Homo sapiens: one gene and its partners. The protein of the gene in region 1 purifies or fractionates together with the protein of each later gene. This does not show direct contact. Each region holds a gene or a part of one and is shown in the gene's direction. Other genes may lie near its edges. The genes, in order: PAK2, GIT2, EIF4E, PFAS, ANXA2, GDI2 and ADAR.

What was found.
Region 2: the proteins of PAK2 (region 1) and GIT2 purify together in Homo sapiens (affinity purification with mass spectrometry; 3 studies listed by BioGRID and IntAct, with this or other methods). This does not show direct contact.
Region 3: the proteins of PAK2 (region 1) and EIF4E purify together in Homo sapiens (co-immunoprecipitation; one large-scale study listed by IntAct). This does not show direct contact.
Region 4: the proteins of PAK2 (region 1) and PFAS fractionate together in Homo sapiens (co-fractionation; one large-scale study listed by BioGRID). This does not show direct contact.
Region 5: the proteins of PAK2 (region 1) and ANXA2 purify together in Homo sapiens (co-immunoprecipitation; one large-scale study listed by IntAct). This does not show direct contact.
Region 6: the proteins of PAK2 (region 1) and GDI2 purify together in Homo sapiens (co-immunoprecipitation; one large-scale study listed by IntAct). This does not show direct contact.
Region 7: the proteins of PAK2 (region 1) and ADAR purify together in Homo sapiens (affinity purification with mass spectrometry; one large-scale study listed by BioGRID and IntAct). This does not show direct contact.

Annotation. Positions count from the first base shown.
Region 1 is NC_000003.12:196,805,288-196,809,657, forward strand, and holds part of PAK2 (serine/threonine-protein kinase PAK 2), read left to right. Parts: intron 1-64; coding exon 65-96; intron 97-1,291; coding exon 1,292-1,399; intron 1,400-2,494; coding exon 2,495-2,627; intron 2,628-4,370. UniProt on the Homo sapiens protein: Serine/threonine protein kinase that plays a role in a variety of different signaling pathways including cytoskeleton regulation, cell motility, cell cycle progression, apoptosis or proliferation.
Region 2 is NC_000012.12:109,986,009-109,990,378, reverse strand, and holds part of GIT2 (ARF GTPase-activating protein GIT2), read left to right. Parts: intron 1-576; coding exon 577-689; intron 690-1,310; coding exon 1,311-1,416; intron 1,417-4,370. UniProt on the Homo sapiens protein: GTPase-activating protein for ADP ribosylation factor family members, including ARF1.
Region 3 is NC_000004.12:98,881,455-98,885,003, reverse strand, and holds part of EIF4E (eukaryotic translation initiation factor 4E), read left to right. Parts: coding exon 1-82; intron 83-3,549. UniProt on the Homo sapiens protein: Acts in the cytoplasm to initiate and regulate protein synthesis and is required in the nucleus for export of a subset of mRNAs from the nucleus to the cytoplasm which promotes processes such as RNA capping, processing and splicing.
Region 4 is NC_000017.11:8,255,521-8,259,890, forward strand, and holds part of PFAS (phosphoribosylformylglycinamidine synthase), read left to right. Parts: coding exon 1-171; intron 172-284; coding exon 285-390; intron 391-746; coding exon 747-887; intron 888-1,003; coding exon 1,004-1,128; intron 1,129-1,314; coding exon 1,315-1,443; intron 1,444-2,286; coding exon 2,287-2,418; intron 2,419-2,550; coding exon 2,551-2,679; intron 2,680-4,370. UniProt on the Homo sapiens protein: Phosphoribosylformylglycinamidine synthase involved in the purines biosynthetic pathway. Catalyzes the ATP-dependent conversion of formylglycinamide ribonucleotide (FGAR) and glutamine to yield formylglycinamidine ribonucleotide (FGAM) and glutamate.
Region 5 is NC_000015.10:60,387,515-60,391,884, reverse strand, and holds part of ANXA2 (annexin A2), read left to right. Parts: exon of another isoform or gene 1-1,672; intron 1,673-4,370. UniProt on the Homo sapiens protein: Calcium-regulated membrane-binding protein whose affinity for calcium is greatly enhanced by anionic phospholipids. It binds two calcium ions with high affinity. May be involved in heat-stress response.
Region 6 is NC_000010.11:5,799,641-5,804,010, reverse strand, and holds part of GDI2 (rab GDP dissociation inhibitor beta), read left to right. Parts: exon of another isoform or gene 1-920; intron 921-3,305; coding exon 3,306-3,413; intron 3,414-4,370. UniProt on the Homo sapiens protein: GDP-dissociation inhibitor preventing the GDP to GTP exchange of most Rab proteins. By keeping these small GTPases in their inactive GDP-bound form regulates intracellular membrane trafficking.
Region 7 is NC_000001.11:154,581,217-154,584,716, reverse strand, and holds the end of ADAR (double-stranded RNA-specific adenosine deaminase), read left to right. Parts: 3' UTR 1-2,660; downstream 2,661-3,500. UniProt on the Homo sapiens protein: Catalyzes the hydrolytic deamination of adenosine to inosine in double-stranded RNA (dsRNA) referred to as A-to-I RNA editing.

The DNA of each region.
Region 1 (4,370 bases):
TCCTTTTATCATATAAAAGTGCTGTTTCTTGAATTGCTAATGTTATGTTTTGTTTCATATTCAGAGAAAGATGGCTTTCCTTCTGGAACACCAGCAGTAAGTTAATTATATTATTTCTTGTATCTCTTGTTCTAATTTAGGTTACCCAAGACAAATCTCAGTTTTTATTTTGCTTTCTAAAATAAATTACAGCCATCAGAGGTAAATAACTACTCAATAGGTGTTTTTAGCTAGCCACCTGATTAGTTGAAGAAGCCGTATTAAATAGAAATTCCTTGATGTGATACTTAATGTAACTAAAATTTATAATGACCTTCAGAACAGTTTAGTTAGTTTTGGTAATGTTAACATATACAAACGTGAACACAAAGAACTTGCTAGCATATATTTTCCTCTCCATCCCTCAGTTTTCCTTCTGGTACTATTTTACTGAATATAGACTGTGGAAAGGTGCTGAACAGTTGAACCTTGTCAGTCTTCAGAGTCATCTGAAACTTAAGTTATCGCATAAACACAGTCAGTTTTTGGAAACAGTCGTTTTATTTGCAGTTTCTCAATTGGGAGGAAACAGTCTCCTGGAGTTTTATTTTTTTATATTTTATTTTATTTTATTTATTTATTTATTTTATTTTTATTTTTTTTGAGTTAGAGTCTCGCTCTGTCGCCCAGGCTGGAGTGCAGTGGCGCAATCTTGGCTCACTGCACGCACCGTCTTCTGGGTTCACTCCATTCTCCTGCCTCAGCCTCCCGAGTAGCTGGGACTACAGGCGCCTGCCACCACGACCAGCTAATTTTTTGTGTTTTTAGTAGAGACGGGGTTTTACCGTGTTAGCCAGGATGGTCTTGATCTCCTGACCTTGTGATCCACCCACCTCGGCCTCCCAAAGTGCTGGGATTACAGACGTGAGCCACCATGCCCGGCCCCAAATCTGACTGTTTTAAATGTCACCAGATGTCTCTGACATAACAAAGCCCAGAGGATCTTTGATTTTGGTCTTAACAAGTAACATTGTTTACTTTCAGGACATTGTATATGTATGCTTAGGGTAACTTTATTAAAATATTTGGTACTCACCATATATATATATTTCATAAACTTTTTCATGATTCATAGAATCGCCTTATTATGTTAGATTATAATTCTATTGAGTTATCTAAGAGCTAATGAGATTTAGTGGTTTTGAAATGAGCTATCAAAGAAGCAAACTTTTTGAAGTACGTTCATAAAGGGCGATAGTCGCATTTAAGCCTATTGGACTTGTTTTCCTTACTTTGCTCATCATCAATGCAGCTGAATGCCAAGGGAACAGAAGCACCCGCAGTAGTGACAGAGGAGGAGGATGATGATGAAGAGACTGCTCCTCCCGTTATTGCCCCGCGACCGGATCATACGAAATCAGTGAGTCTCCATCGGTGATCTAGGCTGTGTGTGTGCACGTGTGTTTTAAAAAATAGCAGAGTTTGTATTTGACTTTCAGTGATTGCTTTTAAAAAGCCCTCAAGTTTAAAATCGTTTAGTATGGGGAAATTTAACCAAGAAATCTGTACCCAAAGACCACTCACCTAAAACTAGTTTTCTGAAGATTAAAATGTGATGTCTTTAAAAGTTAACGCACTCACCTCACTGGGCTTTTTTCTTTGTATAGTACACCTTTTCCAGAGGGTTCGTCTATTTCCCAAGCTTTCTCTGTTTATCTCAATGTAGATGACGACTAAATCTAAAACTTAGAGCTTTCCTCTTACCCAGATTATGCATTTTAATCTCCCATTTTACACTACTCTCAGCGCCTTGCTGTCATTCAAAAGGCAGTTGAGAATGAAATTCCTAACCAGGTAAGGGAGAATTTTAAAAATGATGACCTTAAATGGAGCCAGGAAGAGAGGAATGACTGCGGTTACCATTCTGCTCCCTTCAGTACTGCAGGTAGAGTGTGCGGAAGGTGCTGTGCCGTGGAATGGGCTGTGCTCCTGGCACAGCGGGCAGGCAGAGCTCAGGAGACAGCCTCTGGATGCCAAGCTGATGGCAGAGGACTCCGTTTTCTTTAGCCTTTCAATCTGGCTGTTTGAAATGGGTGGTAGGCATTATAATTGTGTAAAAACTTTCATGGGAATTAATAATAGTTATTTCAACATCAAGGTTTCTGTTCTTTTGCATTTTACTTACCATTTGTAGTAAAAACATGATTTTTAAACCGTGCTTTTTGATACATTGTTATACCATTTTAGACCTGGTCACACTTAAATTTCATTCATGGACCTGCTGTTTTACTAGACAGCTTTTCAAATATATTCATGCTATGCCAAAGAAAAATGTTTCACATTTATTCTTCTTAGTTACACATCTTTTATATCTGAAAATAGTGTTCTCATTATTTAGAACAATGGAAAAGACTACTTAGTTCAGGTTAAAAATCAAAGAACTGAATTAGTTTGCCAGGAAGAATATCTGAAAACATTATTCCTCAAACCTTGGTAATGAACTGTGTCTCCACAGATTTACACACGGTCTGTAATTGACCCTGTTCCTGCACCAGTTGGTGATTCACATGTTGATGGTGCTGCCAAGTCTTTAGACAAACAGAAAAAGAAGACTAAGATGACAGATGAAGAGATTATGGAGAAATTAAGTATGTTATCTACATTTTACATCATTGTTAAATTGTTCACGGCTCTTAAAACATTTGGCCCAGATGGATTTTAACTTACACTTTACATTGTGACTTAAAGTATAAAGAATAAATTGTTTCCTTATAGCAACAGTAGCTTCAATTACAATCTGGTGATGTCACCAGGTTCACCCCTAAATCCCAGCACTAGGTCAGGAGATCAAGACCAGCCTGGCCAACATGGTGAAACCCCGTCTCTACTAAAAATACAAAAATTAGCTGGATGTGCTGGCATGTGCCTGTAATCCCAGCTACTTGGAGGCTGAGGCAAGAGAATCACTTGAACCCAGGAGGTGGAGGTTGCAGTGAGCCAAGATTGCGTCGTTGGGCTGGGCGCGGTGGCTCACGCCTGTAATCCCAGCACTTTGGGAGGCCGAGGTGGGCGGATCACAAGGTCAGGAGATCGAGACCATCCTGGCCAGTATGGTGAAACCCCTCCTCTACTAAAAATACAAAAATCAGCTGGGCATGGTGGCATGTGCCTGTAGTACCAGCTGCTTGGGAGGCTGAGGCAAGAGAATCACTTGAACCCGGGAGGCGGAGGTTATAGTGAGCCGAGATCGCGCCACTGCACTCCAGCCTGGCAACAGTGAGACTCCATCTCAAAAAAAAAAAAAAAAAAGCGAACCGGCCGGGCACTGTGGCTCATGCCTATAATCCCAGCACTTTGGGAGACCAAGGTGGGTGGATCACTTGAGGTCAGGAGCAAGACTAGCCTGGCCAATGTGGCAAAACCCCATCTCTACTAAAAACAAAAATTAGCAAGGTGTCATGGCAGGTGCCTGTAATCCCAGCTACTTGGGGAGCTAAGGCAGGAGAATCACTTGAACCTGGGAGGCGGAGATTGCAGTGAGCCGAGATCGTGCCACTGCACTCCAGCCTGGGCGAAAGAGCGAGACTCAGTCTCAAAAAATAATAATAAATAAAATTAACAATTAAAGAATGCTAATCTAGAGGGTTCAAGGAAAAATACTGTATGGAAGGATTGTTTTAAACATAAAGCCTGGGCATAGTGGCTCAAACCTATAATCTCGGTACGTTGGCTGGCCAAGATAGGAGGATAGCTGGAGTCCAGGAGTTCAAGGCCGAACTATACAACTTAGACCCCGACTCCACCCCCTCAAAAAAAAAAGAAAAAAAGAAAATTAACGAGACCTGGTGGTGCATGTCTGTAGTCCCAGCTGACTGGGAGCCTGAGGCAGGAGGATTGCTTGAGCCCGTGAGTTCAAGGCTGTAGTGAGCTGTGATTGCGCCACTGCACTCCAGCCTGGGTGACAGAGTGAGACCCTGTCTCTAAAAAATAAACAAATGTTTATATGCCCCATGTTTATTTGGTTTTGATTTCTCAGTGCTTTCAAGTATAAACCTGGCTCTTACTCTGTTATTATTATTATCTTTTTTTTTTTTTTTTTTTGAGACAGAGTCTCGCTCTGTCACCCAGGCTGGAGTGCAGTGGCGTGGCTCACTGCAATCTCTGCCTCTCCAGTTCAAGCGTTTCTTCTGCCTCAGCCTCCCGAGTAGCTGGGGCTACAGGTGTGCGCCACCACACCCCGCTAATTTTTGTAGTTTTAGTAGAGATGGGGTTTCACCATGTTGGCTGGGCTGGTCTCAAACTCCTGACCTCAGGCATGAGTCACCACACCTGGCCTGCTCTGTTACTCTATGAGCATATAAGAATTATTTTAGGAGAGCTGCTACTTAAAA
Region 2 (4,370 bases), on another chromosome or scaffold:
TTGTAGTACAGAGTCTCAGTAAAGTCCAGAGATGAGTTGTTTAGAATGCCAGGGTTGACCCTAAAGCAACAATTCCCCAAATGTGGAACCACCAGTGGTATTCAAGACAGATGTAGGTAATACATGTTTTTTTTAATGGTTACATTATTTTACTGTGTATGGGAAAGCTATAACTAGCACATCAAACTGTAGTTGTTTTTACAAGTAAGTGGCTTTAAAGACAAATATTAAGTGAATAATATAGACAGTACATGGGTCATTAAGAATGTTGAAAATAGTGTTTAATTAGGTTTGGGAAACCCTGCTCTAAGGTGTCAGAGTACTTTTTTTTCTTTCATACAGAATAAGAACAGTTCAGTCACACTTTAGGTATTTAACTATCCTACTAGTCAAAGCTGAATCCTGCATATAGATTGATCATCTTTCTCATTCTCAAATCAGAAAACAATGATATGAATGATATTCCTAACAAATGAGTGTTTATAACAGGACTTTGTTTACTCTGTTCAGTCACTGATCCCCATTGAATATTTGTGAAAAGAAATTAAAGTCTTATGTCATCCTGCTTGGTTTTAGATGGTTGAGACCTTGTATAATAACGGTGCTAACTCTATATGGGAGCATTCTTTGCTGGACCCTGCGTCTATTATGAGTGGAAGACGTAAAGCTAATCCACAGGATAAAGTACAGTGAGTGGAATGTTTATAAATACTTTTATTTCTTCATAACAAATGGGGCCCACTGAAAGGAGTGCAGCTATTTTTGGTCAGTCTCCGCAAGGGCAGCAGAGGAGGGGGTTACCCTAGTTGTGCATCAGGTTCTTTGCTATTAGAAATGCAGAATGGGGTGGGGCAGGACCATCTGTTTAGCATGGCCACCCAGCAGGAGTAAGTGGCTTCCTCAGTTGGAAACCATGGCTTGGAGTCTGTAAATGTAATCAGATTTAAACTTATACTCAAATAAGAGGCGATCAGACCAGAAATCTAGGTCTGGGCACCCGTCTGCCTGTTGCCTCACTTATAAGATGGGACTAAATGCTGCTTTCTCCCAAAGTTGCTAAATCAGTTCAGACAATTACACAGAGAAGAGGGCTACTATAAAAAGCAGGTACTCTGGAGTCCCAGCCATTATAATAACTAATGTATGTTTTCAAACTGCAGGTCTTAAACCTTGCTGAAACTTACTTGAGCATTGTTCATTTTATTCTCAAGTGGGGGATGTGGGTCACTTCCTCTTCTTTTTACAGTACAAAGAATGGGGATTGTTGTATCTGAACGAGTGAACTGTTTTCTTTTTTGTTTTTGAACCAGTCCCAATAAAGCGGAATTCATCAGAGCCAAGTATCAGATGTTAGCGTTCGTCCATCGCTTGCCCTGCCGGGATGACGATAGTGTGACTGCCAAAGATCTTAGCAAGGTGGGTCACACCTTTTAAAATCCCTAAAAGAGCGGGCTGAGACAGCATATTGTTTTATTTGAAAAAACGAAAAAAAAGTCTGGTTGTGGGCTTTTTTTTTTTTTTTTTTTTTTTGAGACAGAGTCTCTGTTACCCAGGCGGGAGTACAGTGGCGCGATCTTGGCTCCCTGCAGCCTCTGCCTCCCGGGTTCCAGCGATTCTCCTGCCTCAGCCTCCTAGGTAGCTGGGATTACAGGCGCATGCCACCATGCCCAGCTAATTTTTGTATTTTTAGTAGAGACGGGGTTTCACCATGTTGGCCAGGCTGGTTTCGAACTCCTGAGCTCAGGTGATCCGTCTGCCTCGGCCTCCTAGTGTTGGGATTGCAAGCGTGAGCCACTGCACCCGGCCAGGGTTTTTTTGTTTTTCGTTTGTTTTTTTTGAGACAGGGTCTTGCTCTGTTGCCCAGGCTGGAGTGCAGTGGTGCAATCACGGTTCACTGCAGCCTTGACCATCCAGGCTCTAGCAATCCTTCCACCTCAGCCTCCCGAGTAGCTGGAACTACAGGCGCATTACCATACCCAGCTAATATTTTTTATTTTTTGTAGAGACGGGTTCTTGCTATGTTGCCCAGGCTGAAAAAAGTTTTTAAAGAAAGAAAAACAAAAACTCATTTCTGCACATTCATTAATTAATAGCTTTTTTGTCAGTCGGTTTCGTCTTTAATCTGAATTCAAATGGCAGCCATTCATATAGTGGAGGTTCAGGGCAAAGAGGAAAAGTAAGTCTCTGGAAGGCTGTTTGTGTTTTTCCAATATGGCTTTTAAATTATATTTTGATAAGTTTTTTGTTTGTTTAACTTTGAAATAGGAACCATCTCAGAGTTGTTTCTAGAAGGGACTAGAAAGATTATAGGACAATTGTTTCTTTTTAATAAGGACTAGAAAAAGTACTAAAGGAAGGGGACTTCTTCAGGTTTCCAGGTTGAACAGTAAGTATGATCTTCAGAAAGCAATGTGTGACTCAAAGCTATAGTACACAGAATGGTTTATGATACTTGTAAAACGAGTGAGGTGGTTTTCTTTATGTGGGCCTTCGCATGTTTTTGAGAGATGCTGTAAGAAATGTGCATATTTTCAAAGCGCTGCCTTGGATAAATGCTTACTCACACAGAGCATGAGAACTTACTTATTCAGAACTTTTTTTATTACTTTTTGGCCGGGTGCGATGGCTCACTCCTGTAATCCCAGCACTTTGGGAGACTGAGACTGGCAGATCACTTGGGCTCAGAAGTTCAAGACCAGCCTGGGCAACATGGCGAAACCCCGTCTCTACAAAGAATATAACAATTTTAGCCGGGTATGGTGGCCGTGCCTGTAGTACCAGCTACCTGGGAGGCTGAGGTTGGAGGATGACTTGAGCCCAGGAGGTGGAGGTTGCAGTGAGCTGAGATTACACCATGGCACTCCAGCTTGGACAACAGAGCAAGACCCTGTCTCAAAAAAAGAAAACATTTTCTGCATCTATTGAGATGATCATGTGGTTTTTGCTTTTGCTTCTATTTATTTATTTATTTATTTATTTATTTTTATTTATTTTTGAGATAGAGTCTTGCTCAGTCGCCCAAGCTGGAGTGCAGTGGTGCGATCTCAGCTCACTGCAAGTTCTGCCTCCCAGGTTCATGCCATTCTCCTGCCTCAGCCTCCCAAGTAGCTGGGACTACAGGTGCCCACCACCACACCCGGCTAATTTTTTTTGTATTTTTAGTAGAGACAGGGTTTCACCATGTTAGCCAGGATGGTCTCGATCTCCTGACCTCGTGATCCTCCCGCCTCGGCCTCCCAAAGTACTGGGATTACAGGCAGGAGCCACCGCGCCTGGCCTGCTTTTACTTCTATTGATGTGGCAAATTACATTTATTGATTTGTGTATGTTGAGCCAGCCTTGAATCTCAGCAAAAAAGCCTACTTGATCATGATGGGTTAATTTTTTTATTTTTATTTTTATTTTTTATTTTTTATTTTTTTGAGACAGAGTCTCGCTCTGTAGTCCAGGCTGTAGTGCAATGGCATGATCTTGGCTCACTACAACCTCCGCCTCCCAGGTTCAAGTGATTCTCCTGCCTCAGCCTCCCAAGTAGCTGGGATTACAGGCACGTGCCACCAGGCCCAGCTAATCTTTTGGTTTTTTTTTGTTTGTTTGTTTGTTTGTTTGTTTTTGAGACGGAGTCTTGCTCTGTGGCCCAGGCTGGAGTGCAGTGGCGCAATCTTGGCTCACTTCAAGCTCCGCCTCCCGGGTTCATGCCATTCTCCTGCCTCAGCCTCCTGAGTAGCTGGGACTACAGGCGTCCGCCACCACACCCGGCTAATTTTTTTGTATTTTTAGTAGAGACGAGGTTTTACTGTGTTAACCAGGATGGTCCCGATTTCCTGACCTCGTGATCCGCCCACCTCGGCCTCCCAAAGTGCTGGGATTACAGGCGTAAGCCACCACGCCCGGCCATTTTTTGTATCTTTAGTAGAGACGGGGTTTCACCACGTTGGCCAGGCTGGTCTCGAACTCCTAACCTCATGATCCGCCTGTTTCAGCTTCCCAAAGTGCCGGGACTACAGGCCTGAGCCACTGCGCCCAGCCATGGTGGATTAACTTTTGATGTGCTACTGGATTTGGTTTGCTAATATTTTGTTAAGAGTTTTTTAAAAAATCTGTGTTCATCATGGATTTTGGCCTGAAGTTTTCCTTTTTTGTTGTGTCTTTGCCAGATTTTGGTATCAGGCTGATGTTGGCTTCACAGAATGAGTTAAGGAGGAGTCTCTCCTCTTTGATTGTTTGGAATAATTTTAGTAGGATGTTCTTCTTTGTATGTCTGGTAGAATTCAGCTGTGAATCTCTTGAACTGGGGAGACGAAGGTTGCAGTGAGCTGAGATCATGCCACGGCACTCCAGCCTAAACGACAGAGTCTCACTCTGTTGCC
Region 3 (3,549 bases), on another chromosome or scaffold:
TTGTTAATGTTAGAGCTAAAGGTGATAAGATAGCAATATGGACTACTGAATGTGAAAACAGAGAAGCTGTTACACATATAGGGTAAGTTTTGCTCTTTGCCTACTTATTTTACAGTATTAAGATGAGTAAAACCAGAAGTTATTTTATTTGTAGCTTTAGAAATACTTCAGTTTGTAGATCCTGTTTTCCTTGTATTGTTTTCGTGAACACTTTTATAATTTTGAACGGCTCAATTGGTGCGCAACGTCTTGTTTTTTTGGGTTTTTTCACAGCTATTTATTTATTTATTTATTTAGAGATAGAGTCTCACTCTGTTGTCCAGGCTATATATAGTACAGTGGCATGATCTAGGCTCACTGCAACCTCCGCCTCCCGGGTTCAGGAGATTGTTATGTCTCAGCCTCCCGAGTAGCTGGGAATACAGGCGCATGCCACCATGCTTGGGTAATTTTTATATTTTTAGTAGAGACCAGGTTTTGCCACGTTGGCCAGGCTGGTCTTTTAACTTTTGGTCTCAAGTGATCCGTCCACCTCAGCCTCCCAAAGTGCTATCATTACAGGCATGAGCCACTGCGCCTGGCCTTTTTCATATGTTTTTTATTTCTGTAAAATTGCTTTTTCTTAGCAGTGAAGTATATAACCACTAGAGCACTCTCCTTTGGCATGTAGCATTTTTTATTCATTCACAAATGAGAATGTATTATTTCCTACTTTGAAAGTGCTGTTTGGAAAAAAGTACTACTTTGAAAAGAGCTAATGTATGCTCATAATAATAATTCAGTGATTATTGGCAAATAGTATATGTGCATTTAAAGCATGTGTGTTTACTACGTATAATTTTCATTAAAATTTATATAACATATCTTGGTTTTTGTTCCATGTTTAAAACCCACATATGTAGGGTTTTATTAAACCTTTTTTTGTAAATTTTATTCTTTGCAAAAGTGGCTTTTTTTTTTTTTTTGAGACAGGGTCTCACTGTGTTATTCAGGCAAGAGTGCAGTGGTGCAGTCATGGCTCACTTCAGCCTCAACCTCCTGGGCTCAGGTGATACTCCTACCTCAGCCACCCAATTAGCTGCAACTACAGGTGTGTATGACCACACCTGGCTATTTTCTTGTATTTTTTGTAGAGAAGAGGTTTTGCCATGTTGCCCAGACTGGTCATGAACTCCTGGACTTGATCAAGCCACCTCAGCCTTTCAAAGTGCTGAGATTACAGGCGTGAGCCACCATGCTAAACCAGCTGACATTTTTTTTCTAAGATTTCTTTTTACCTCAATTATATTAGTAATATTTGACACCAGGCGCAGTGGCTCACACCTGTAATCGCAGCACTTTGGGAGGCTGAGGCAGGTGGATCACAAGGTCAGGAGATTGAGACCATCCTGGCCAACACGGTGAAACCCCGTCTCTACTAAAAATACAAAAAAAACAATTAGCTGGGCGTGGTGGCGGGCGCCTGTAGTTCCAGCTACTTGGGAGACTGAGGCAGGAGAATGGCATGAACCCGGGAGGCGGAGCTTGCAGTGAGCCAAGATTGGGCCACTGCGCTCCAGCCTGGGAGACAGAGCGAGACTGTCTCACAAAAAAAAAAAAAAAAAAAAAAATTTGACTTACAATTTTATGTTAAAATTAAGTGCTGGTCAGTCAGTGGTCAAAATGTTTGGTTTGCCCCTTTGTGATTTTTCAAATATTATTAATTTTTCTTTTTAAAATTAATTAATTTTTTGAGACAGAGTCACACTCTGTTGCCCAGGCTGGGGTGCAGTAGCGCGATGTCAGCTCACTGCAACCTCCACCTCTTGGGTTCAAGTGATTCTCTTGCCTCAGCCTCCTGAATAGCTGGGACCACAGGCCTGAACCACTGCAGTAGTTTTTGTAGAGACAGGGTTTCGCCATGTTGGCCAGGCTGGTGTCAAACTCCTAGCCTCAAGTCATCCACCTGCCTCAGCCTCCCAAAGTGCTGGGATTTCAGGCGTGATCCATTGCTCTCAGCCATGTAAATTTTTATGTGAACATAATTTATTTCTGGATCAAAAGGTATAGGGATTTTCTACATTTCATGCTATATGGGGTTCCATAAGAGAAAAGAGTTGATTTGTCATCATATTTTAATGTTTCTTCCAGCATCAAAACCTAATTTTGGAGGATTTACTTTTTTTTTTTTTAAATGAGTTAAATTAAGAATTTTTTTCCTACGGAAGTTTTGTATTTTTGTCAATATTAAATGTTTTTGAGTGTATATTAAGACTTCAGATTTTCAAACGAAGATTTTCTTTTTTAACCTTCCAATTTGCATGACTCAATGGTCTTGCTTTTTGACATTTTTAATAATTAAGTATAATTGAAAGGAATGCATTGCATTATAATGCAAATTTGATAATTAACACTTTAGTTACCATAAAATTACTTTTTAATACCTTATTTTAGGGGGAAGGTAGTAAATCTTCTGGAAGGTATAAAAAAAACCTATCCTAGTATCATGTTGGAGGATTTAACTCCATTAATATCTTTATTCCTTTATTTTTATTTGATTTTTGCTTATTTTTGAATTTTTACTATTTTTTTCCTAAAGATTCTTTTTTCTTTTTTTTTTTTTTTTTTGAGACGGAGTCTTGCTCTGTCACCCAGGCTGGAGTGCAGTGGCACAGTCTCACTCAAGCTCACTGCAAGCTCTGCCTCCCAGGTTCACGCCATTCTCCTGCCTCAGCCTCCCGAGTTGCTGGGACTACAGGCACCTGCCACCACACCCGGCTAATTTTTTGTATTTTTAGTAGAGGCGGGGTTTCACCATGTTAGCCAGGATGGTCTCGATCTCCTGACCTCGTGATCCGCCCGCCTCGGCCTCCCAAAGTGCTGGGATTACAGGCGTGAGCCACCGCGCCCAGCCAAAGATTCAAATTTTTAAGATGACCTATGAAGCTCTCTGTGATCTTCCTCTGAAACCTTGTCAGCTTTATCTCATGTTCACTTTACTTACAAGCCATAGCCACACAGCCTAATTTTTATTTCTCAGCTTTCAAATGTGCTCATTCTCTTAACATTATCCTTTTGACCTCGTGATATTTAAAGGGGAAGACTTCTCTAATGTTGTAGATGAGATTAGAATCTCCTTGTTATACAGTATCACAGCCCTTATGTTTACTCTTTGGCACTCATGACAAGTGCCATTTTATTCTTGCAATAGAGTCATGTCTTACTTGAAAATTAGGTTGTAAAGTTAGTATGTAAAGCAGAAATTACATTCTCCCTCGAAGTGTTTCATTCACTCCCTCGAAGTGTTTAATCTCCCTCAAAGTGTTTAGTTTTTGTTTGTGCAGTCTTATAACAGGTATGGTTAATATAATTTGTGTAGTAATATACAATATTTGCTAGGGTTCAGACGTGAAATGTAACATTTTAGATCAAAGAATGAAACATGTTTGTTTTACAGATTTCTGTTTTTAAGTATGCATGTGATACAGGTCTGTCATGTATTTGTGATTATTTGATTATGTTTTCTCTACTAGACTATAAATGCAGTCAGCTCAGGGACTGTCCTTACTT
Region 4 (4,370 bases), on another chromosome or scaffold:
CTGAGGTGGAAGCCATTGCTCTGGCTACCCTGCACGACCGGATGACAGAGCAGCACTTCCCCCATCCCATCCAGAGTTTCTCCCCTGAGAGCATGCCGGAACCCCTCAATGGCCCTATCAATATACTGGGTGAGGGCCGGCTTGCGCTGGAGAAGGCCAACCAGGAGCTTGGTGAGTAGCTGGGGAGGGAGATGTAGGGTCCAGGATAGGCCAGTAGGGGTGCTGAGATCTGGAATGTGGCTGCCTGAGTTCCATAGTCACCTCTTCCTGGATTTGTCTCCTAGGTCTGGCTTTAGACTCTTGGGACCTAGACTTCTACACCAAGCGCTTCCAGGAGCTACAGCGGAACCCGAGCACTGTGGAGGCCTTTGACTTGGCGCAGTCCAATAGGTGAGGAGAAATGGGGTTGTTCCCATACCTGAGCCCATGGGTGTTGGGAGAGACCACAGGGGCTCACCTTCATGTTCCTCCCTTGGCTTAGGGGCCTCCCTGAGTCTCTGAGGGCCTGGGCTCCCGTCATCCATCAAGGAGTCTACATTCAAATCTTGGTTTTATCTTCACTTTGGCTCTGGATAGTCCAAAATGACAGAATACTTGAAGATTATGACTTTTTGGAATATATTTTGATCTGTCATCTAAGTATGAATTTGGCTGTAACTCTGCTGTTAAATGCTGGTGAGAAGACATGGCATTAAGAAATGACCCCGTTTCCACCTGCCTTCCCCTCCCTGCATCGCCCCCTGCAGCGAGCACAGCCGACACTGGTTCTTCAAGGGCCAGCTCCACGTGGATGGGCAGAAGCTGGTGCACTCACTGTTTGAGTCCATCATGAGCACCCAGGAATCCTCGAACCCCAACAACGTCCTCAAATTCTGTGATAACAGCAGGTGCTGTGCCCTAGACTGGGTTGGCGTCAGGACCCGGGGAGGGGAGGCCCCAGGCCCTGGTTGGGTTAGTGTAGGTCCCAGAAAGGAAGCAAGGTCCATGACGGGTATGTCCACAGTGCAATCCAGGGAAAGGAAGTCCGATTCCTACGGCCTGAGGACCCCACACGGCCAAGCCGCTTCCAGCAACAGCAAGGGCTGAGACATGTTGTCTTCACAGCAGAGACTCACAACTTTCCCACAGGTGAGCTGGGTTCCCTGGAGAAATAGGTGAGATCACAGAATAGGGTAGGGCAAAGGTCCCAGGCCCCTGGAGTGGGCCTGGGGAAAATAATCAGGGAAATTGGTTGTCCTTATTTTCAGTGGGGGTGGTCAGAGATGGGGGTTTGTCTCTGAGGCACCCAGACCTCTCCCCACTCTCTCTTTGCAGGAGTATGCCCCTTTAGTGGTGCAACCACTGGCACAGGGGGCCGGATTCGAGATGTCCAGTGCACAGGCCGCGGGGCCCACGTGGTGGCTGGCACTGCCGGCTATTGCTTTGGAAATCTGCATATTCCAGGTTCCATCTCCTTCCTCTCTATCCACCTTCCCTTCCAGATTCCTTGTCCTGGCAGGCAGCAAACTTCTATCTGTTAGGTCCATAGGGTTATCCTGTGTGCCTTTTCTCAGGAGGAAGGGCTCTAGGATAGCTGGCCTTTCACTAACTATGGTCATAAGTGTAGACCTGGGGAGATGAGGTGGCCAGACTGCTTTTGCAGGTCTACGATTTTCTTTAAAAACTAGCCTTCATTCAGCCAGAAAGCATGATATTGGGTTGGTCTTATGATCAGTACCTGCCCCTCAAATCTGGTTTCTTAGCCTGAGAAACTTGGCTGGGCGTGGTGGCTCACGCCTGTAATCCCAGCACTTTGGGAGGCTGAGGTGGGCGGATCACAAGGTCAGGAGATCAAAACCATCCTGGCTAACACGGTGAAACCCCGTCTCTACTAAAAATACAAAAAATTAGCTGGGCGTGGTGGCGGGCGCCTATAGTCCCAGCTACTCAGGAGGCTGAGGCGAGAGAATGGCGTGAACCCGGGAGGCGGAGCTTTCAGTGAGCCAAGATCACGCCACTGCACGCTAGCCTGGGTGATAGAGCGAGACTCCATCTCAAAAAAAAAAACAGAAAGCCTGTGTAACTCTGATTGCGAGATTCAGAGGGAAGGCTGGTGTGGGTGGTGGAAAGAAGACCAGTGCCTCACTGCAGGCTCTAGGGCTTCCTAAAGCAGGACTTCCTGAAGTGGAACATTGCAACCATGCAGGTGGTCCTTGGTGGCCTTGACTCTTCCTGAAGGATGCAGGCTGCTCCGGCCTGTCTTCACAGTTCATTCAGTTCATCCAGTTCTCTCTCCTTCCCTCCCAGGTTACAATCTGCCCTGGGAGGATCCAAGCTTCCAGTATCCTGGGAATTTTGCCCGGCCCCTGGAGGTTGCCATTGAAGCCAGTAATGGAGCTTCTGACTATGGCAACAAGTTTGGGGAACCAGTGCTGGCTGGTGAGGCTGGGGTGTGGAGGGATGACAAACACCCAGAGGGGCTTGTGGGTGGGGTGTGCGACCCAGGGGCTGTGCTATTGGGCGAGCACTGGGGGAACTGAGTGACAGGTCCCTCTGATGTTCACACTCCAGGCTTCGCCCGCTCCTTGGGCCTCCAGCTCCCAGACGGCCAGCGGCGTGAGTGGATCAAGCCCATCATGTTTAGTGGGGGCATTGGGTCCATGGAAGCTGACCACATAAGCAAGGAGGCCCCAGAGCCAGGTAAGAGCCTGCCACCTTTCTCTGGATCCAGCCAGCTTTCTCCCCAGCACAGGATGGCTACAGGGAGGGAACTTAGGGAACACTTCAGTGGTTAGTTTTTAATATGTTGGCTTATCTTATGTGTCACATAATGATGGACAACTCATTCTGAGAAATGTGGCTATTAGGTAATTTCATTATTGTGCCCACTTCATAGACTGTACATACACAAACCTAGATGGCATAGCCTGCTACACGATCCACACAGCCTCTTACTGGCAATATTATCCAGGAATTTTGTACACTTGGGAGCCATGATGAACAAAACAGCATGAGAATAAAATAAGCACAAGAGAAAATAATGCAATCAAGACGTGGTGGGCCAGGCAGGGTGGCTCGCACCTGTAATCTCAGCACTTTGGGAGACTGAGACAGGTGGATCACCTGAGATCAGGAGTTCAAGACCAGCCTGACCAACATGCTGAAACCCTGTTGCTACTAAAAACACAAAAATTAGCCAGGCATCTGCCGGGCATGGTGGCTCATGCCTGTAATCCCAACACTTTGGGAGGCTGAGGTGGGCAGATCACGAGGTCAGGAGATCGAGACCATCCTGGCTAACACGGTGAAACCCCGTCTCTACTAAAAAAATAAAAAAATTAGCCAGGTGTGGTGGCGGGCACCTGTAGTCCCAGCTACTCGGAGGCTGAGGCAGGAGAATGACGTGAACCCAGGAGGTGGAGCTTGCAGTGAGCTGAGATCCCACCACTGCACTCCAGCCTGGGCGACAGATGGAGACTCCATCTCAAAAAAAAAAAAAAAAAAATTACCCAGGCGTCATGGTGCATGCCTATAGTCCCAGCCTCCTGAGGCACAAGAACCACTTGAAGCTGGGAGGTGGAGGTTGCAGTGAGTGGAGATCGCACCACTGCGATCGCACCACTGTCAAAAAAAAAAAAAAAGACGTGGTAAATATGAGATAATATGAAGCTACTGTCAATGTAACATGGCATACCGTTTTTAGGTAAACTTTTTTTTCTCTTTTTTGTTAATTATTATTATTTTTAATCTGCATTTTCTTTCTCAAGTCAGATTTTTTTTCTCTTTTTAGAGACAGGGTGTTACTTTGTCACCCAGGCTGAAGAACAGTGGTTCTGTCCTAGCTCACTGTGGCCTTGAGCTCCTGGGCTCAAGCAGTTCTCCTGCTTCAGCCTTCCAAAGCACTGGGATTACAGGTGTGAGCCATGGTGCCCAGCCAGAATAAACTTGCTTTATATAAGTAGAATGAGTACATTCTAAAATAACAGTAAAAAGTATAGTTGGTTGGGCACAGTGGCTCACGCCTGTAATCCCAGCACTTTGGGAGGCCAAGGCAGGGGGATTACTTGAGGCCAGGAGTTTGAGACCAGTCTGGGGAATACAGTCAGACCCCTGTCTCTAAAAAAATTAAGAAATAAAACTTAGCTGGATATGGTGGTGTACACCTGTAGTCCCAGCTACCCAGGAGGCTTAGGTGGGAAGATCGCTTGAGCCAAGGAGCTCAAGGCTGTAGTGAGCTATGATCATACCACTGCACTCCAGCATGAGTGACAGAGTGAAACCCTGTCTCCAAAAAAGAATAAAAATAAAAAATAAATGTAGGCTGAGTGTGGTGGCTCACGCCTGTAATCCCAGCACTTTGGGAGGCCATGGTGGGCAGATCACCTGAGGTC
Region 5 (4,370 bases), on another chromosome or scaffold:
TGAAACCAGTCGGCAAGCTGGGTGAGGTTGAAGTGTTGGAAAGAGTGGTGCAAACTGCCATTTTCATGTTCTTTAGAGAAGTCTGCCAGAAAAGGAGTAGTGGTTCTGTTTTTAATGGATTTATGAGTTTTATACGGTGATGAGGAGTGAGTAGAGGTGAAATTGTCTCATACAGCATGTAGGCTTTATTTTTTATTTTCATTCAAAACAGTAAGTACACTGAAGTCAGAGTAGTTGTTTTCAGTAAGAAAATTCTGCCTCCAGAGCAAATGTTTTGGTGAATAGATAAATATGAGTACTGAGTCCCAATCATTTTGGCTCATAGGTTCCCCAGTATTTCCATAGGCAAGCTTAACTTTGCACCATTCAGAGACTTATATTTTAGGTTCCCCACAGGGCACCCCACTGGACGTGGCTCATTTTCCAGCCTGTAGTCTTGTTCTTCTGCCACCCTGGGGCATTATTCCTCTTCCCCTCTCCCCAGGCCTTCCCCCTTGCTTCTTGGCTGGAACCTCCCATGGTGATTCACCCTTCTCAGCCTAGGCAGACAGCACCTCCCTGTTAAGCCCTTAACTAATCCCGCTCTGATGGCTGTGATCTTTCTCTCTGTGTCTTAATCACTTGGAATAAAGAACCATTGTGGTGAGGTTGAAAGGGCATTGGCCCAGGAGTCTGGGGATCTGGGTTTTGGCCCTGCCTCAGCTACTTAATTCACTGGGTGACCCTGGACTAGACTCTCAGTGTGTCACAGAGGCACGAAGGGAAGAGAGCTCAAAGGTCCTGCAGGGTGGAAGTCTGCATTTCACAGTTTTATAAGTGTCTTTTGTATCCTTTAATATAGTGCAGGCTCAGCGTATGCTTGGTATGGGTTCGTTGATTAATTCCTTGCGTATTACCAGTGTTTGTAACCTACAGTAGCACTGCCAAGACTTCCTTTTCCTGCTTTCAAGGATAGCAGCACACTGACACATTCTCATTAGTCAAATATGCTATATTAAACTAATGTTTTAACAAACAGTGAATCGCAAAGCCAACTGTTCCTTCCAGCGAATAATAGATCATATGCAAAATGACTTTGCATTGCTAGGGGATTTGATGGAGTGAAGAAGCAAGCACTGTATTTTATTTCTTTTTATTTTGTTTTGTTTTTTGGACATAACCTCAAGATTTTATTGTCCTCATAATAAAACAAAAGATGATGCTTAGAACTGGATCACTTGGCCCTTTCTTTTGTTATCTCCTCCCAGTTGAAAATGTTTGCATGTCTTAACAGCCAGCATTTTCTTAGATCTGCAGATGGGGTCAGCACACTCAAGCCTCAGCACAACCTCCTTTGTAATTTTACCCGTTTTCCAGAAAATTGCCTTAGTCTACCCACCATAGTCACTCTGCTTCTTGTCATAACGCCGCTTTCCCTGGGCATACAGGGAGTCCTGGTATTGTGCCGTTTTGTGGGGTTGGTGCTTGCCACACTTCTTACAGAAAGCCCAGTGGGTTTTAGGAATGTTCACCATGTTTTCCGGAATGCTATCGGCATGGGAGGAAAGTGGCCATATTTTATTTCTAGGGTGAAAATGTTTGCCATTAAACTCACATGAAGTAGGAAATATTTATATGGATACAAAAGGCACCTGCATGGGATAATGTCAAATTTCATAGATACTGCTTTGTGGTAAGTGTGACTTTGTGGTTATTGTGATGTTTGTGTTTTGTTTTTTTTTTCTGCAAAATGGTTATACATAGTATAAATGTTATGCAAAATAGCAACTCATTGTTTTCAAGTTGATTTAGCACCTGCATTATGTAAAGATAATCTGAAATCTGTAGGGGGACTGGGACTATGTAGGGAAGATGAGGTCAACCATATACTTTCTACTGCTTTGAATTGTACCTATGCATTCACCATTTGAATACTTGGCACGTGTAGGGCACTTAAAACATTCTGCCGAATGGATGAATGAAGTGGTATCAAAAAGTGCCCTGGCAGTGAAAGGCAAGATAGAGTTCTGTAGAGTAGGGGTCGTGGTGACCCTGTTGGAGCAGATACTGAAGTAGTGGTGAGTGCGGAGAGGCAAGTCACATTTTGGCCCTAGTCAACTGTAGCTGAGGAGTAAACAGAGGGAACTGTTTACTGTTTACAGGATTCTGATGCTCATCTTTGAAGGCTGGGCTCTGCTGGAGGACTGATTTTGAATGATGTCAAATGATTTTGACAAGATTAAATGGGGAGATTTAGTTGGTGGTGGCATGCAGGACTGATTTGATGAAAGAGCAGCACAGTTATGAATGGTGAAACCGAAAGGAAGATTTGTGGGGCTTTTAACAGTCTCCTCAAGGTGTTGTGGCTGTGGGAGAAGAATTAACATGAATGGAGAGTGTAAAGAAGCCTATCAGATTGTCTTTGATCTGCACAGTACTGGGGAGTCCCATGTGGGACACGGGTAGGCAGCAGTCTACAAAGCTCAGAGCTGGAAAGACAACTTGAAAGAACAACACAATGAAAAGTTACCGTGCCTCTAGTTGAGATTTTCTAAACATCGGAACCAATGTGAGGTGTCTGATTTCATAAACAAGTGGAATTTAATCTATACTCTCTAAGTGGAAACAACTCTGTTTGCAACTCTGACTTGCTAGTTCCCTGGTTTTGCTTTTGTTTTACGTTTGGCATTTTTTATTTCTTGCCTGTTTATGGTAGAGACTAGAATTCTGCACAGCAGATGACAACAGTTTATCCCCTGCTGCAGACCTGGTCCAGTTCTGACTGAGTCCAGGGGTGATAGTTAAGGCCAGGGCTTGGGTGGTTTGATGTCCATCCTAGGAGTTTCACCTCTGCTTCGGTAATTCTCGGGCTGAGGGATACTGATGAGACCCTCTAGAATGTTTCTTGGTCCATGTTGAAGTTAGAGATTTCTTGCTCTGTCAAGAAGACTGTCAGCCTGGGCAAGGTAACGCGACATTATCTCTACTGGAAAAAAAAAAGCCAGGTGTAGTGGCACACGCCTGTAGTCCCAGCTACTTGGGAGGCTGAGGCAGGAGGATCTCTTGAGTCCTGGAGATCAAGGCTGCAGTGAGCTATGATTGCACCACTGCACTCCAGCCTGGGTAACAGAGAGAGAAACCCTGTCTCAGACAAAAAAAAAAAAAAAAAAGGTCTAGGTGTGGTGGCTAACCCCTGTAATCTCAGTGCTTTGGTAGGCTAAGGCGGAGGGATTGCTTGAGCCCAGGAATTCAAGACCAGCCTGGGCAACACAGTGGGACCTTGTCTCTACTGAAACATTAAAAAAAAAAGGAAAAAAAATGGAAAAAGGAAAAAGGAAATTAAATGGAAATAAGATATATTCAACATATCATAGTTGTAATTGTAATATATGATCAATATATAAATTATTGGGCTGGACACAGTGGTTTATGCCCGTAATCTCAGTGCTTGGATCACTTGAGGCTAGGAGTTCGAGACCAGCCTGGGCAACATAGCAAGACCCTGCCTTTACCAAGAAAGAAATTATAAATGAGAAATTTTATATAATTTTTTCATACTATGTCTTCAAAATTCAGAATGTCCTTTACACTTATAGCACATCTCAGTTTGAACTGACCACATTTCAGATGCTTTGTAGCCACATGAGGCTGGTGGCTACTGTATTGGACGGTTCTGCTACAGAGCAAGACTATTCTAAATTGTCTTTTTTTTTTTTTGAGACGGAGTTTTGCTCTTGTTGCCCAGGCTGGAGTGCAGTGGTGTGATCTTGGCTCACTGCTACCTCTGCCTTCTGGTTTCAAGCTATTCTCCTGTCTCAGCCTCCCGAGTAGTTGGGATTACAGGCGCCCGCCCCCACGCCCAGCTAATTTTTGTATTTTTAGTAGAGATGGGGTTTCACCATGTTGGCCAGGCTGGTCTCTATCTCCTGACCTCGTGATCTGCCTGCCTCGGCCTCCCACAGTGCTGGGATTACAGGTGTGAGCCACCGCACCCGGCCGATTGTCTTCATTTTTAGGAAAGTTTTAGGTTCATGGCAAAGTTGAATAGAAAATACAAAGAATGCCCATGTTCCCCTGTTCCCACATACGCATAGCTTCCACTGTCAACATCCCGTATCAGGGTGGTACATTTGTTAGAACTGATGAACCTACATTGACACATCGTTACCACTCAAAGTCCATCGTTTACATTAGCATTCACTGTTGGTGTTGTACATAGATGCATCCACCATTACAATATCAGATAGAATCATTTCATTGCCTTAATAATCCCCTCCCCTGAATCCCTGATCTTTTTGCTGTCCCCATAATTTTGCCTTTTCCAGAATGGTATGAAGTTGGAACTATACACTGTATTACCTTTTCAGTTGGCTTCTTTCACTCAGCAATGT
Region 6 (4,370 bases), on another chromosome or scaffold:
TATTATGGAAGAAAACTTGAAATTTGTGTGAATTTTAAAAATACGGGTTTCAAAGTCAAATAGACTTGTAGAGAATAAGATTGTTCTTTGACATCTAGGGTCCTTTGGATAAATTTGAGAAATATTAAAGATTTATAAAGATACATGGAATTTCCTTTGTCTCTTTAAGAAATAAAGCACTGATCACTCAAACCCTTTTTGAGTGATTATATGCCCCATCTCTGTGTTTCTTCACATTAATTGTATTAATTTTTTCCCTCTTCTTAATTTGGTTTGTCTTAGTGTATTCATGCTTGCTTTATCTTTTTCCTGAGAGTGGTCATTTATACTTTTCGGTTGATGGTCAATTTATTGGTGGTTGTCCTATATGCTTTGCTTAGGGCTCTAGTTTTCAAACTTTTTAGTCTCAGGATCTGTTCACGTGCTAAAAAATTCAGGACCTTGAGCTTTTGTTTATAAAGGTTGTAGCTATTGATATTTATCATATTAGAAATGGAGGAATAAATAAATCACTGACAAATAATAAACCGATTACATGTTAACATGTATAACAATTTTAACTGTATATGTACTTTTTTTTTGTTATTGAGATAGGATCTCACTTTGTCACCCAGGCTGAAGTGCAGTGGCCTTATCACGGCTCACTGCACCTTTGCCCTCATGGGTTCAAGTAATCCTCCCACCTCTCAGCCTCTTGAGTAGCAGGGACTACAGGTGCTCACCACCACACCCAGCTAATTTTTGTATTTTTTGCAGAGATAGGGTTTTGCCCTGTTGCCCAGACTGGTCTCCATCCAACTCCTGGGCTTAAGCCATCTGCCTGAGTATATTTTCTAAAACAAAATTGTGAGAAGACTATCAATATTTCACGTTTTCTGCAAATCCTTTAATGTCTGGCTTAATAAAACTGAATTCACATACATGCTTCTGTGTTCAGTTCTGTTGCGATATATTGTCTAGGCTGAAGTATATGAAAACAGGTCTCACACAGACATGTAATTGGAAAAGGGAGGAGTAATTTAAATATAGCCTTTCAGGTTATTGTAGATATTCTTTGGTTTACACAAAAGCACAAGTGGTAGTTTTTAAGAGATAGCAGTATGAAATCTGAAGCCACATTAATGAATGTTTTATATTCTGATATATTAACACCCACTGATCTAGCTTGCACTTTGAATTCCTCTTTTTTCCTCCTGTGTGATTTTGTAATTTCATTCACCCGTTATTTGGAAAACAAGGTTTACTCTGAGTAAAGTGGGTCTTAATGTTGACATGTTTCATTTTACATTATCAAAACATCATATTTGTTAGTATTGTCACTGATAATGTTAGAAAAGTTCTTCATGTATTGGGGAACCTGACGTGTGCCCATGGTGGTAGTTGTAAGTTTTCCATAATTCTTTTTTTTTTTTTGAGATGGAGTCTTGCTCTGACACCAGGCTGGAGTGCAGTGGCGCGATCTCGGCTCACTGCAGCCTCCAACTCCCTGGTTCAAGCGATTCTCCTGCCTCAGCCTCCCGAGTAGCTGGGATTACAGGCATGCGCCACCATGCCCAGCTAAGTTTTGTATTTTTAGTAGAGATGGGGTTTCACCATGTTGGCCAGGATGGTCTCAATCTCCTGACCTTGTGATCCACCCGCCTCGGCCTCTCAAAGTGCTTGGATTACAGGTGTGAGCAGCTGTGCCCGGCCAAGTTTTCGGTAATTCTAATTTTCATTTAAAATTTGACTTATTGGCAGCACGTGTCAGTTATTTTCCTTTAGGTTTTCTTTGAGAAAATGTCAAATACCTAAATCTGAATAATCATAGTTTGTTGGTCAGTTCTTTCAAATAAAAATGATTATTCATAAAAAAAAGCGGCTAGTTCAGCTTACAGATCAGTGGCACAGGTTTTCCCTGAGCTGAAGTGCTGTCTGTATTCTTCCCATTTTTTCACACACAATGTTTAAAAGATGACTATTGAAGGGTATATGTTTATTAAATAACTTTATTAATTCTTTTTGCTACTCAGTCTTGCTCTGTCACCCAGGCTGGAGTGCAGTGGCGTGGTCTCAGCTCACAGCAGCCTCTGCCTCCTGGGTTCAAGCAGTTCTGCCTCAGCCTCCTGAGTTGCTGGAATTACAGGCATGCACCACCATGCCCTGCTAATTTTTGTGTATTTAGTAGAGACAGGGTTTCACCGTATTGCCCAGGCTGGTCTGAAATTCCTGGGTTCAAGCATTACACCCACCTCGGCCTCCCGAAGTGCTGGGATTGCAGGTGTGAGCCACCATGCCTGGCCAATAAAGTTACTTTTTAATGCTTTTATCAAGGACATCCTTTTTTTTGTTCTTGAGATGGAGTTTAGCTCTTGTTGCCCAGGCTGGAGTGCAGTGGTGTGATCTTGGTTCACCACAACCTCTGCCTCCCAGGTTCAAGCAATTCACCTGCCTTGGCCTCTTGAATAGCTAGGATTACAGGCATGTGCCACCATGCCCGGCTAATTTTGTATTTTTACTAGAGATGTGGTTTCTCCATGTTGGTGAGGCTGGTCTTGCTCTTCTGACCTCAGGTGATCCACCTCCCCTGGCTTCCCAAAGTGCTGGGGATTACAGGCGTGAGCCACTGTGCCCACCCTATCAAGGACATCCTTAAATGAATGCCTGGCGATGAAGACTGTAATGATGACTAGTATAGTTTAGAGCCCTGTCTTAATTTGTTTTATCCACCATTGATTTTACATCATCAGTGGAAGTGTCAACACTGAAAAGGTGACTAGGCTGGGCACGATGGCTTACGCCTGTAATCCCAGCACTTTGGGAGGCTGAGGCGGGAGGATCACCTGAGGTCAGGAGTTCAAGACCAGCCTGGCCAACATGGTGAAACCCTGTCTCTGCTAAAAATACAAAAAATTAGCCGGGTGTGGTGGCGGGCACCTGTAATCCCACTTACTCAAGAGGCTGAGGCAGGAGAACTGCTTGAATCCTTGGAGGTAGAGGTTGCAATGAGCTGAGATTGCGCCATTGCACTCCTGCCTGGGCAAGAAGAGTGAAACTCTATCTCAAAAAATAAATAAAAAAAAAAAATTAAAAGGTGACTAATGTCTTAGTGTTATTATGAAACAGTTTTAATCTTGGGATGCATAGGAGCCCACAGACCACACCTGGACCCCTGGTTTCTTAAGGGCTTTCTTCATAAATTATGTCATGTTGCATGAATATAAGTGTAATTACTAAGAGAATGTGTAATGGCAGGCTTGAAAAAAATGATCTGTTTTAAATATGCTGTAGAACTTTCTTTTCAAGGTACTATGCTTTTTCTATAGGAATGTATCCTGTCAGGTATAATGTCAGTGAATGGCAAGAAAGTTCTTCATATGGATCGAAACCCTTACTACGGAGGAGAGAGTGCATCTATAACACCATTGGAAGATGTAAGTGTTAGTCAAATTTCATACGCCTCTCACACTTTGTGAGTATTTCACTTGTGAATCTCTACCTTATTCCTTAGAGATGGTCTTAATTTTGTTTTGTTAAATGGAATATCTGGAGCACTGTTTTTCAGGAGCTTCTGGTTTGAAGCTCATAGAAATTTACATTTTGACTTTTGTTGCTATGTGGAGCAGTTATCTCTTAGCATTAACAGAGAATAGTCTAGGAAGGGAGGGTAGAGGATCGTCTGATGTGCCAGCGCAAGTCCAGTGCTTTCCTCATGGCTTTATTTATTTTCTCAGTCCCTCAAAGATTTTTTTTTTAATCTCCATTTAACATAGTCTCTGTGGGGTTAAAATCTGAGATGGGTTGTAAACCCAAGTTACATGACTACAAAGCTTAGTTCCTTTTGCTATACTGCCTTGTTTCCTACTTTTTTTGAACGTGGACACATAGCATTTCCACAGTGTGTTTTAATATATTGATTGTTTTTCTGCGTGAGGTTTGTTGAACACCTACGTATATGGATATGATGTGTACTGTGTCTTATGGGAGATAGATATCATCAATGACTTTAATCAGTGACTTATTAGACAATACTTACCAAAAAGGATTTTTTTCTATATTCAGTAATACTGAAAAGTTTAAAGAATAATACGATGTATAAAAAAATCTTCCATCAGAGTTCAGCAGTTAAAGTTTGCTGTATTTTTTTCATGTCTCTTTTTTTGTTACTGGTTTTGATCCATTGAAAGTGATAAGACATCATGAGGCTTGAGCAAAATATTTCAGCATTCATCTGCTAAGAATAACATTCTCCTGCATAAGCATAATACCATTATATCATATCCAGAACCATATTCAAATTTCCCAGTGGTCCCAGTAATCTCTTACGTAGCTGTTTGTATTTGGTATAATTTTCTCTTTATTCTCTTATTTATTTTTCTGGAGACAGAATC
Region 7 (3,500 bases), on another chromosome or scaffold:
TTTTTTTTCTCCTTTTTTTTTCTTTTTAAGCCATAATTGGTGATACTGAAAACTTTGGGTTCCCATTTATCCTGCTTTCTTTGGGATTGCTAGGCAAGGTCTGGCCAGGCCCCCCTTTTTTCCCCCAAGTGAAGAGGCAGAAACCTAAGAAGTTATCTTTTCTTTCTACCCAAAGCATACATAGTCACTGAGCACCTGCGGTCCATTTCCTCTTAAAAGTTTTGTTTTGATTTGTTTCCATTTCCTTTCCCTTTGTGTTTGCTACACTGACCTCTTGCGGTCTTGATTAGGTTTCAGTCAACTCTGGATCATGTCAGGGACTGATAATTTCATTTGTGGATTACGCAGACCCCTCTACTTCCCCTCTTTCCCTTCTGAGATTCTTTCCTTGTGATCTGAATGTCTCCTTTTCCCCCTCAGAGGGCAAAGAGGTGAACATAAAGGATTTGGTGAAACATTTGTAAGGGTAGGAGTTGAAAACTGCAGTTCCCAGTGCCACGGAAGTGTGATTGGAGCCTGCAGATAATGCCCAGCCATCCTCCCATCCTGCACTTTAGCCAGCTGCAGGGCGGGCAAGGCAAGGAAAGCTGCTTCCCTGGAAGTGTATCACTTTCTCCGGCAGCTGGGAAGTCTAGAACCAGCCAGACTGGGTTAAGGGAGCTGCTCAAGCAATAGCAGAGGTTTCACCCGGCAGGATGACACAGACCACTTCCCAGGGAGCACGGGCATGCCTTGGAATATTGCCAAGCTTCCAGCTGCCTCTTCTCCTAAAGCATTCCTAGGAATATTTTCCCCGCCAATGCTGGGCGTACACCCTAGCCAACGGGACAAATCCTAGAGGGTATAAAATCATCTCTGCTCAGATAATCATGACTTAGCAAGAATAAGGGCAAAAAATCCTGTTGGCTTAACGTCACTGTTCCACCCGGTGTAATATCTCTCATGACAGTGACACCAAGGGAAGTTGACTAAGTCACATGTAAATTAGGAGTGTTTTAAAGAATGCCATAGATGTTGATTCTTAACTGCTACAGATAACCTGTAATTGAGCAGATTTAAAATTCAGGCATACTTTTCCATTTATCCAAGTGCTTTCATTTTTCCAGATGGCTTCAGAAGTAGGCTCGTGGGCAGGGCGCAGACCTGATCTTTATAGGGTTGACATAGAAAGCAGTAGTTGTGGGTGAAAGGGCAGGTTGTCTTCAAACTCTGTGAGGTAGAATCCTTTGTCTATACCTCCATGAACATTGACTCGTGTGTTCAGAGCCTTTGGCCTCTCTGTGGAGTCTGGCTCTCTGGCTCCTGTGCATTCTTTGAATAGTCACTCGTAAAAACTGTCAGTGCTTGAAACTGTTTCCTTTACTCATGTTGAAGGGACTTTGTTGGCTTTTAGAGTGTTGGTCATGACTCCAAGAGCAGAGCAGGGAAGAGCCCAAGCATAGACTTGGTGCCGTGGTGATGGCTGCAGTCCAGTTTTGTGATGCTGCTTTTACGTGTCCCTCGATAACAGTCAGCTAGACACACTCAGGAGGACTACTGAGGCTCTGCGACCTTCAGGAGCTGAGCCTGCCTCTCTCCTTTAGATGACAGACCTTCATCTGGGAACGTGCTGAGCCAGCACCCTCAGATGATTTCCCTCCAAACTGCTGACTAGGTCATCCTCTGTCTGGTAGAGACATTCACATCTTTGCTTTTATTCTATGCTCTCTGTACTTTTGACCAAAAATTGACCAAAGTAAGAAAATGCAAGTTCTAAAAATAGACTAAGGATGCCTTTGCAGAACACCAAAGCATCCCAAGGAACTGGTAGGGAAGTGGCGCCTGTCTCCTGGAGTGGAAGAGGCCTGCTCCCTGGCTCTGGGTCTGCTGGGGGCACAGTAAATCAGTCTTGGCACCCACATCCAGGGCAGAGAGGTCTGTGGTTCTCAGCATCAGAAGGCAGCGCAGCCCCTCTCCTCTTCAGGCTACAGGGTTGTCACCTGCTGAGTCCTCAGGTTGTTTGGCCTCTCTGGTCCATCTTGGGCATTAGGTTCTCCAGCAGAGCTCTGGCCAGCTGCCTCTTCTTTAACTGGGAACACAGGCTCTCACAAGATCAGAACCCCCACTCACCCCCAAGATCTTATCTAGCAAGCCTGTAGTATTCAGTTTCTGTTGTAGGAAGAGAGCGAGGCATCCCTGAATTCCACGCATCTGCTGGAAACGAGCCGTGTCAGATCGCACATCCCTGCGCCCCCATGCCCCTCTGAGTCACACAGGACAGAGGAGGCAGAGCTTCTGCCCACTGTTATCTTCACTTTCTTTGTCCAGTCTTTTGTTTTTAATAAGCAGTGACCCTCCCTACTCTTCTTTTTAATGATTTTTGTAGTTGATTTGTCTGAACTGTGGCTACTGTGCATTCCTTGAATAATCACTTGTAAAAATTGTCAGTGCTTGAAGCTGTTTCCTTTACTCACATTGAAGGGACTTCGTTGGTTTTTTGGAGTCTTGGTTGTGACTCCAAGAGCAGAGTGAGGAAGACCCCCAAGCATAGACTCGGGTACTGTGATGATGGCTGCAGTCCAGTTTTATGATTCTGCTTTTATGTGTCCCTTGATAACAGTGACTTAACAATATACATTCCTCATAAATAAAAAAAAAACAAGAATCTGAATTCTTAGAAAGTTTTAAGTCCTGGTTTCTTGGGGGAGGTGAAAATGGGAACAAAGGGACCTGTGGCCCTGGGGTTTCTGATAACAGCACCAGTGGCATCTGACATGAACCTGTGGGGGACAGGGCTGTCCCTCAGCCTTTGGAAAGGAGCCATTTCAAAGAACCTCCCTTTGTGGGTAAATTTGCGTCTGGGTGGGGTGGGGTTCATCAGGCACCTTTTGATTACGTACCCAGCAGGGCCCTTCCCCAGCAGAGCCCACGATTGATTGATTGATTGATTGATTGATTGATTGATTTAGAGATGGAGTATCACTCTGTCTCTCAAGCTGGAGTGCAGTGGCGCGATCTCGGCTCACTGCAAGCTCCGCCTCCCGGGTTCACGCCATTCTCCTGCCTCAGCCTCCCGAGTAGCTGGGACTACAGGCGCCTGTCACCACGCCTGGCTAATTTTTTTGTATTTTTAGTAGAGATGGGGTTTCACCGTGTTAGCCAGGATGGTCTCAATCTCCTGACCTCGTGAGGTCCACCTCAGCCTCCCAAAGTGCTGGGATTACAGGCGTGAGCCACTGCTCCCAGCCAGAGCCCACTATTAAATATCTTGTCCCACGGGACTTGAGACGCAAGATTTCAAGGCCCAGAGTAGGAAAACATCCCTTGAGAGAGGATCACCTATTAGGTACATAATTCCAGCTCTCCTTCAGGGGTGTTTTCTACCTCCTCCAAACCCCACTACTACCAGCTGTTTGACTTCCAGGAATGTGCATATTTGGAGTAAAGTTGCAGCCAGGACCAGGACAGGCTTGGTTGTAGTTTTAGGAGACAGACCATTTTCTTTTTACATCATAGATGAC